Linked DNA regions of Homo sapiens: regions 1 and 2 are each reported to be linked to region 3. The links are microRNA targets in miRTarBase. Many come from high-throughput screens and were not tested one by one. Region 3 holds a microRNA gene; each other region holds the end of a gene's coding sequence.
The links. Region 3 holds the annotated microRNA hsa-miR-379-3p (UAUGUAACAUGGUCCACUAACU, at 2,285-2,306, shown strand). A microRNA usually pairs through its seed, bases 2 to 8, with sites in the 3' UTR of a target mRNA and lowers its output. Matches are read on the target gene's strand: a 7mer-m8 pairs with bases 2 to 8, a 7mer-A1 pairs with bases 2 to 7 and ends in A, and an 8mer does both.

Region 1: miRTarBase lists JAZF1 as a target of hsa-miR-379-3p. Seed matches in the 3' UTR shown: 7mer-A1 at 2,410-2,416.
Region 2: miRTarBase lists SYPL1 as a target of hsa-miR-379-3p. Seed matches in the 3' UTR shown: 7mer-A1 at 345-351 and 7mer-A1 at 645-651.

What each region holds. Positions count from the first base shown.
Region 1 is chr7:27,829,924-27,833,099 of GRCh38, forward strand. It overlaps JAZF1 (JAZF zinc finger 1), which reads right to left. Exons shown (of 5, transcript NM_175061.4): 5 at 654-3,053. The coding sequence ends at 2,877. Among named protein-coding and RNA genes, the nearest start is that of TAX1BP1-AS1, 91 kb to the left of the region's middle.
Region 2 is chr7:106,088,836-106,092,011 of GRCh38, reverse strand. SYPL1 (synaptophysin like 1) reads left to right here. Exons shown (of 5, transcript NM_182715.4): 5 at 73-1,507. The coding sequence ends at 207. Among named protein-coding and RNA genes, the nearest start is that of SYPL1, 22 kb to the left of the region's middle.
Region 3 is chr14:101,019,825-101,023,000 of GRCh38, forward strand. It overlaps MIR379 (microRNA 379), which reads left to right and starts at 2,242; the gene lies at 2,242-2,308. It overlaps LOC124903407 (mucin-2-like), which reads left to right. Exons shown (of 5, transcript XM_047432049.1): 5 at 1-3,176. The coding sequence ends at 980.

The DNA of each region.
Region 1 (3,176 bases), not on the chromosome of region 3:
GCCGCTTTTGTAGTTATCATCAAAATAGTTTACATTTGTTCTGAGCAAACTAGCTATTGAAGATGTTAACCTAATATTTAGACTTGGTGGCATTTTGAGTTGCTATATGTGAACTGCAGCATATCATGTCGTCACTTGTATTTGTTTGTGGAAGCAGAGTTTGTATATTGTTAGAATCCTTTAAAAAGTTTTTTGAGTCTAGGGCAAACCAGTATGAGGCATTCATATGCCAGCTGTTAGGACACAGCAGTCCTAGGAAGCAATAGCTTTGGAGACTTTCAGCTTCCAGATAGGTTATATACTTAGGTAAAATATGTTCAACAATGGGAGCATTTTTGTTGGAGTTAATAATTATGGACCATGTTAATCCAAAAGTATCCTTGGAATATTTATTATAGTAGTAGACACTGTTCATCTTACTAGCCTAGAACTTATTTTAAAATAGTTTAAGTAAGTAAGTCCAAGCTTAATTTGTTATTGACAGAAAAGTAATACAGCCTAATCTAATCTAAGCAAAAATGTAAGGGAATAAAGTCTACATGCATCAACTGAACAGCCTTAGAATGAGGAACTGAATGGATATATTAATTTCCATGGTAAACTTGATACTGGTTTTCATAATGGACACTAAGGAAAATAAAGAGCCATATTTATTTTTGGGTCAGAGGCAGTTTATTTTAAATGTGATTTCATTTACATTTATAAGCAGCTTTTCTTGACAGGAATTTTGATTAAATTGCCTTCAGTTCTAAAACAAACCTCTGTTGCTTTCAGACTTAATGTGCTCTGTCCCCAACAAAACATATGAAAATATAATTTAAAGCACAGTTTTCACAGACACAGTACAATACATTCACTATACACAGTATAACAAAATATTCCCATCCTTACCTGTTTAGTAATACTGTCACAATGAATAAGTAAATAGAAATTGGAATTTATCTTTGAAAGCATTGAAAGAAATTTAACATGCACAATGACTATTTTATGACTGTTTAGCTGTTGAACTACTGATCCAGCCTGCAGTTTCTTGCACTAGAAAGAGCGAAGCTAAATAATAATTGCTGGCCTAAAAAATTTTTTTTGGTCAATTGTAGGTAGATATGAAATAGCCAAGTGGGGCCTTCTTATGCACCAACTAGTTGCGTCTCATGTCTGGATCACCCTTTTAAACATAGGATAACACTGTATATTCAGGACCAAGACCATACTTCAGATCTGAGGAAATTTTTAGAGGGCAGTGTTTTTATAAATACTTTGAATCCCTCATAATGAAGGATTTTAGAACTTATGAATATAGAGGTTTACTCATCTAACAAACAGAACTGTCATCCTTTCAAAATGTCTGAAAATTGAGGAGGGACCCCTGCTTCCCAGTTATATGTGATGTAAGACTTTTCATCAAATGGGAACATGGGAAGAAACTTTATAAGCAATTTGAGTTTGTTTTATGGGCAGTTAGCTATCTCAAAGCATTTTTTATTGCATTATTAGGCAACTGGTAAACTCTCGTGTTTAAGGAATAGCACTTGGGAGAAAAGAACACTCAAGGCATGATGGTACTGTCGGTGAGGAAAAACTTAAGGAATGGTCCAGATGTAGATTACTCTAATAGGTCGTATTAGTCATGCTTTTCTTTGACCACCTGCTGCAAGAAGCACTTAATTGTCAATAAGGCTCATTTTCCTATTTCAGCAAAGTGTTTGTTTTATAAAGCTAAACAGACATTTCCAATGAGAATGCAGACCTCTCTACAATGTGATGAGAAAAGTACCTTTTAAAAAAAGTAAAAAATGAGCATGAAGAAGAGGCAATAGGGGTCTTAACAAAAGTGTTCATCTTTGAAACGTGCTTAGAATTTTAGTTCTGATTTGCAACCCACAGGTTTGGTAGGGCAGTGGTTGCAAGAATTGGCAACACATAAACATTAAATTGTTGGCAATAGAGAACTACAAAGTGCTTTAAAACTTCATCTGAAGATGAAGATATAACTAAACTTCACACACACACACTTTGCACTGAAGTATTTCAAAGTCTTTTCTAACAGATTTCAGGGAAAAAAGTATTTCACTAAATGGGTATCTTGGTCCGCAGATATCAATAGGCATAAATTGAATCCCTTGTACCCAGCAGGCACTCAATCAATGTGTGTTAAATGAATGAACGAACTGAATAGACTATTTTGTACAAAATGCCATTTATAACACTAAAATGACTAGTAAGTCAGATGGCAAGATTTTCAGCTTTTTAAAGGGCAAAAGGATTTGCAAGATAATATAAAACACAGAAAGCACACCTTTACGTATGTTATTTAAATATGAAAATATTTTTAGCATATTATGTTAAACATTCTTTCTTATTTATATTTCCATTACCTAAAGTCTTTCTACTCACAAATACTAACTCCATTATGTAAGGCATGGTAACCAGTTTGATAATGAAGGTATTATTTTGGTTTTGAACATATGTGAGTTGATGTGTTGAAAACTTCAATCACATTACAATCTTGAAAAAAAAATCTCAGTGCCAGCCCCTCCTCCCCCCAGGTTGATACCACCGCAATACAATTCAACAATATGCAACATGCCCTCAATTTTATTTTGTTTTGGGGGAAATGTGCTGAAGAACCTAGAGCTTTTTTTGTTTAGCACCTTATATCAAAGTAATGAAAATGGGTATGATGATTACATGTGCAAATGTACAAAATCATTAACTCTACAAAGATACATCATTCCAAAATTACAGAAAAAATTTAAAGCATGCATTTAATTCTTTTTCTTTAAAGGGTTGCTGAATGCTTCCCCTGAAAAAAGGTGGCTGTTTTCAAAATCAGCAACTGCTGGTGAGGATTTCTTGGCACAGTTATGACCAGCATGTTATTGCTGCATCTTCCTGATAATCTCAGCCGACACCGGGGGATGGAAATTGATTGTGTGGTGCCGCAGGCCCTGAGCTGTCTTGTAACTCTTCCCACAGCGACACTTGAATGGTTTGCGGACACGAATCTGTGTTCTGTGACCATTCTTAGCGTGATACTTTATGCCATTCACATTCTGTGGAGAAGACAAAAATATTTATTACATGGATTCACAGGATACCTGTCAAACTTCGGAAACCTCAATTTGGGTCTGGATTGCAGTTCCTGGATGGCAGCTGTTTAGAGTGTAGTCTTTTGC
Region 2 (3,176 bases), not on the chromosome of region 3:
GAGATTTTTAAGTAGGGCATGAATTTTTATAAGTAGGTATTTGATTTTCATATTTCTTTTTCTCTTTCATAGATATTTGGCTTTCTAAATATGATACTCTGGGGAGGAAATGCTTGGTTTGTGTACAAGGAGACCAGCCTACACAGTCCATCAAATACATCTGCCCCTCATAGCCAAGGAGGTATTCCACCTCCTACCGGAATATAATTAAAGGGAGAAATACACTGTATGAAGTATATGTTGATACTATGACATGTTGCCAACACCTTGAGAAGCATTATTTGTTTCTAATAAAAGTAATGGCTTTGTCAATATATTGGTGGGTTTAAAACTTTGCTGCTTTTTTACATAAAGCCTGTGCCTTTCCTAGAAAGTTAAGATGTAAATGTATTCTCACATGTAAATTTGAAAGTTCAGGGGTCTATTATGAAATGATACACATTTTTAAATGAACCATAATTTTTTTCACTAAGCTGTTTGCCTTCCAAAGTGTTTACACCTTAAGCCTTAACATGTATCTTCATTCAGAAAACAGTTATATTGTCATACCATAGTAGGAAGAAAAACCTTTATTTGGAATATACACTACTGTAAGTTTGTACAGATCATATACCTACCACCTGTCTTTGCTTAAAGAGCCTTGATTACATAAATATGTAGGAAAAAACATATTGAGTTCAAAATTTATATCTAACATTGTTTATGTTATGATTTTTTTTTAATTGCAAAGACTAGGTGTATATTTTTTTCTGTTTTTCTAAATGACCCGTGGTACTTAATAGGTGTACTAAAATTGTGTTGGGAGCAGGGATTTGGAAATTTCTGAGAGATGTGTAGTTAATTTAGTAATTCTGTTTCATGAGATATGATCTGTTATGCTAGTGGTTTAATAGGCTTGCTATGTAAGTAGAACGTGGCTCAACTAGATATCTTTATATGTATGGGCATTACTCTTAGTGATATTTGTTTCCTGTCCTTTGTTGCTCATGCTGTTTAAGTGCAGGCTGAGACCCAGCCTCTTTGTAAGTACAGTAAAATAATCCACCGTTTTTTACAGACCCTAGTCAAAGGGTTAAAAAAATTAAGATTGCTTTCCATGTTTGAAATTTACCATTGAGAGTCAATGAAGTTGCTATTTTGAGTTTAGCATTGATATTGTGAAAATAAGTGCAATTTGGATTTCATGTTTCTTAATATTCATTCTTGTTTCACAAATGAATGATTAAGGAATTATGCATCATAAAGGAACCTAAGTGAGGTATATGATGAGTGTATTGTCTTTGCACACACATATAGGTATATTCTGAATACAAGCTTATTCACATTTTGCTTCCTAATCTTTTTGTTGTACAGGGATTCAGGTTTCTTATTCTTACAACATGATTGTTTATATGTGAAGCACATCTTGCTGTTGCCTTATTTTTGATGCTTTTATTCATGACAAGAATTGTCAATATAAGAATGTATATCTTTTTTGCAACCAATTTAATAAAGGAGTTGAAAGAAAGAGTGCACTGATTGTTAATATTACAAAGAAACCTTCATCTTAAAGGCATTGAGCAGTGCAAAACAGAACTGATTTTCAAAGCAGGAAATAGAATCACAGTTTTAATGTTTGGCAAGGAATAAAACAGACAGAAATGCTTTGGAGACTATGGTTCTATCCTTTTTTCTTCCGACCTCATTTAGAAAATACTTATTTGCAACTCTTAGATTGTTTTCCTGATATACCTTTTCTCATTAATTGTCTAATTAACTAGCAAAGATTCCTGCTTAAGAGTGTGTGCTCTGCAACCGAACTGCCTAGATTTGAATCTTGTCTACACCACTTACTAGCTGTTTAACTGTAGGCAAATTGCCCTCTGTGTGCCTCAGTTTGCTTATGTGGAAGTCGGAAATAAAGTAAGTAGTTCCCTCCTGTTTACTGGGGATATGTTTCAAGACCCCCTGGGATGCCTGAAACCAAGTGTAGTACCAAGCCCTATGTGAACTGTCTTTTTTCCTATCCATACATGCACCTATAATAAAGTTTATCAATTGAGCACAGTAAGAGATTAACAAGGACTAATAATGAAGTGGCACAATTAAAACCATACTGTAGTAAAAGTTATGTGAATATGGTCTCTCAGAATATCTTACTGTACTGTACTACGGGGAACTGAAACTAAGAATAGTTAAACCACTTTCCTGATCTCAGTGTGTTTATGATTTAAAAGTGAATTAACAAATGTAAAGCCCTTAGAACAGTGTTCCGCATTTAGTAGGCACTCTATAAATGTTAGCTACGATTACTAACTTTTGATAGCATCTGATATAGAGATTCTTAAACTAGGAATTCATGGGGCTGGAGCCGTTAGGGTGGTGGTTTTGGACAAAGAGAGGATTGGCGTCAGGCTTTCAAGCTTGTCCCTTTACAATCCTTAAAGAGTTCTGGATCTTTTGGTGTGTTTTATTTTTCTGTTGGTTGACATTCATAAGGTTAATGAGATCAAAATTTAAAACTTAAAAGTATTGAGATTAAAGTAGATCTTAAAAGGACTTCTATTGCCTTTTCCCTTTGTGCTTTTGAATCAACATTACAAGGTTAACCCATTTATAGGATAATTTCCAGGAGAGAAGCAATAAAAGCTTTACTTACTAGGTGTTAGGTTGTAGAGAATTATTTATAAAAAAGATGAGCATTACTAATGTTTTAGTGAACAGAGGTCAGTTGAATAGATGTTTAACCTACTGTAAATGTTAAAGGCAATATTGCTTATGTTTCACATTTAAAATTTTTTCATATAGTATTTCAGATTAATAGGTAAGTATACAAAATAATATTTAACAAATGCTTTATTTGCATCAGATGTTTGTTTGTTGAGACAGGGTCTTACTCTGTCACCCAAGCTAGAATGCAGTGGCGCCATCTCAGCTCCCTGTTAACCTCCACCTGCCAGGCTCCAGTGATCCTCCCACCTTGGCCTTCTCAGTATCTGGGACTACAGGCACGTGTCACCATGCTTGGTAATTGAAAACATTTTTTGTAAAGACGAGTTCTCACTATATTACCCAGGCTGGTCTCAAACTCATGGGCGCAAGCAGTCCTCCTGCGTCAGCCTCCCAAGTGCTGGGATTACAGGTGTGAGCCACCTCACCCAGCGTTGCATCAGATTTTTTTTTTTTTTTTTTTTTTT
Region 3 (3,176 bases):
CCAGACCACACCCCATCCAGTCCACACCCCATCCAGACCACACACCATCTAGTCCATGCCCCATCCAGACCACACACCATCTAGTCCATGCCCCATCCAGACCACACACCATCCAGACCACTACTCCATCCAGTCCTCACTGCATCCAGACCTCAGTCCATCTATCTAGTCCACACCTCACCCAGACCAATCTCCATCCAGTCCACACTCCATCCAGTCCACACCCCATCAAGATCACTACTCCATCCAGTCCACACTCCATCCTGTCTACACCCCATCCAGTCCACACCCCGTCCAGTCCACACCCTGTCCAGTACACACCCCATCCAGTCCACACCCCATCCAGACCACACCCCATCCAGTACACACCCCATCCAGTACACACCCCTTCTAGTCTACACTCCATCCAGACCACACCCCATTCAGTCCACGTTGCATCCAGTCCACACCCCATCCAGACCACACCTCACCCAGACCACACCCCATCCAGTCCACACCCCATCCAGTCCACACCCCATCCAGACCACACTGTATCCAGTCCACGCCCCATACAGACCATACCCCATCCAGACCACACCTCACCCAGACCATCCACGCCCCATCCAGACCATACCCCATCCAGACCACACCTCACCCAGACCACACCCCATCCAGTCACACTGCATCCAGTCCACACCCCATCCAGACCACTACTCCATCCAGACCACACCCCATGTAGTTCACACTCCCCCAAGTCAACACCCCATCCAGTCCATGTTCCATCCAGTTCATGCCCCACACAGACCACGCTCCATCCAATCCACGCCCCACCTCGACCACTACTCCATCCAGTTCATACTGCATCCAGTCCATACTCCATCCAGTCCACTGTCCACCCCGACCATGTTCATCTGACCCATGCTCCATCCAGTCCATGCTCCATCTGGTCCTCTGCTTTTACCCTACAGTGTCCACTCTTGTCCTCTCTCTTCTTGGCTTAGTCCCCTCATCCTTTATCTTCTAATCTAAACTTCTGAGAAGTTTTCCTGATTGGCGAGAGCCTCTTGTTAAATGCTCTCTGCTCCTTCACAACACTTTGGCCTCCTCACATTTTGAAACCAATTCTCTGCAATAACTACTTTAATGTTGGTTTTCCCCACAACGCTAGCAGCTGCAGGAAGGCAGAGACTGTGTCTTATTTACTGGTCTAGCTCCAGCACCTCACAGATGTTCAGTAAACACAAGTTTATTTCTACGAGTGACCACATGGAAAATGTGAGTGGGCTGGAGGAGAGGTGCAGGCAGGGTGCTGTGGAGGGTCAGGGATGCAAAGGCCTGAGTTGGCTGAGGTGGGGTCGGGCTCGTGGAAGAACTGCCATTTGGTTGGGCTTCAGAGAGATGTAAGCAGACACGGGGTCTGGGTGGAGGAGTAGTGCCAGCAAAGGCATGTGGACAATGCACGGGGTATGGAGGGTAATCTCTTAGACTAGACTAGCTCACACTTGGAGGGAGCAGGGGAGCATGATGCCTTGAATGACTTCCTAAGGAGTTAGGACTTCAACAACTGAGTTGCAGGGCCCCGTCTACACTGGGGTTCAGGACTTTAGAGGACAACCGAGCTGTCCTGCAGGGCTGCTGAGGGTTCTGCCCTTGTCCTTTCCCTGGAGGCTAACAAATCATTGCTTTGCATTCCATTCACATGGGATAGTTGTGCCATGAAAGGGGATGGAGAAAATCAAGGAAGACCTCCTGAAGGAGGTGGAGAGGTTAATCAGGAGCTGGAGGAACGCACTGCCCACTCAGCTCTGTGGTTTGAGTCTCCAAAGGTGGTCTAGAGCATGGCGAGGACCATCGGAACTTGGGTGAGCTAGGGAAGTTTTTACCTAGAGGTTGAGGGTCCCCTTTTATATGATGAACTGTGCTCTTGGAGTGTCCCATTTGCCATGCAGAACAAAACACTGCCCTTTATCTTGATGAAGAGATAGTTGACCACATAATGGCCAAAGCATGGTCAGTATTGTACATTTTGCCTTGTCGCAGTCTTTCCAAGTTGACATGGCCTTCCTGGAGGAATTACCACTTAGGGTAGAGGCACCCCTTCCCCCATCAATGCCACTGCCCCACATTGGAGGAGGGGTTGTTTATGTTCACCATGTGCCTGCTTCCAATGCCAAATCCAGCCTCAGAAAGCTTTCTGGAAGTGACGCCAACTTCAGGGGCAAGGCCCTGGTTCTGGGGTCAGCACCATTCCGTGGTTCCTGAAGAGATGGTAGACTATGGAACGTAGGCGTTATGATTTCTGACCTATGTAACATGGTCCACTAACTCTCAGTATCCAATCCATCCTCGGAGGGCTTCCTGGAGGTGTTGCCAACTTCAGGGAAGAGAACACGTGGTTTAGCTTCAGCACTGCTCCACGGCAATTTCTGTGGCTCATGGTTGATGTCTGACTTGTGCAACAAGGCCTGGCTCTTCTGGGCACTAAATGCACTCTCTGGGGAGTTTTCTGGAAGTGATGCAACTTGGGCTCAAGACACCGGTTCCAGCCTCAGCCGTGGTTCTGGAAGAGATGATTTGCCATGTGGCCTGTGCGAAAGGAGGGATTTGTGTGAGATGGGCTACCACTTCCCAGTAGCCTGCCAGCTTTGGAGGGCTTCGTGGAGCCAATACTACCTTCAGGGGGACCCACCAGTCCATCCTTCATTCCGCTGTGTGGCATTGAAGAGTTGCTTTCCTGTGTTGAAGTTTTCTGTTTATACCAATGTCCACCTCTGATCAATCTTACATTCAGTCTCAGGGTTTTCCGGAGGCAGTGCCAAGTCTGGGAATGAGACAGTGGTTCTGTCCTTAGGGAGGTGGTTGACCAAAACAACTCCTGCTTTGTTCATGAAGATGGCATGGTGGTTACTGCTCAGAATCTAATCCAACCTAAGAGGACCTCCTGGAAATGCCCTTGGTATTGAGGCAGATATGGCCTTAGGGCACTTTTTTTTTTTTTTTAATGCCCAAGACTAGAGCTCACTAATAGGTAAGATCTGGGCCTCAGGTGCCCAGTACTGTTTCCTTGGCCTGGTTAGTGTAACTAGATGGATGTTCTTTGGTTGCACGTGGGCCATTTTGTATTTCTGATTTTCTCCCCACTCCCCTAACCAGCTCTGTTAGCCATGTGCCATGTCCTCCCTCCCATCTACCCACTC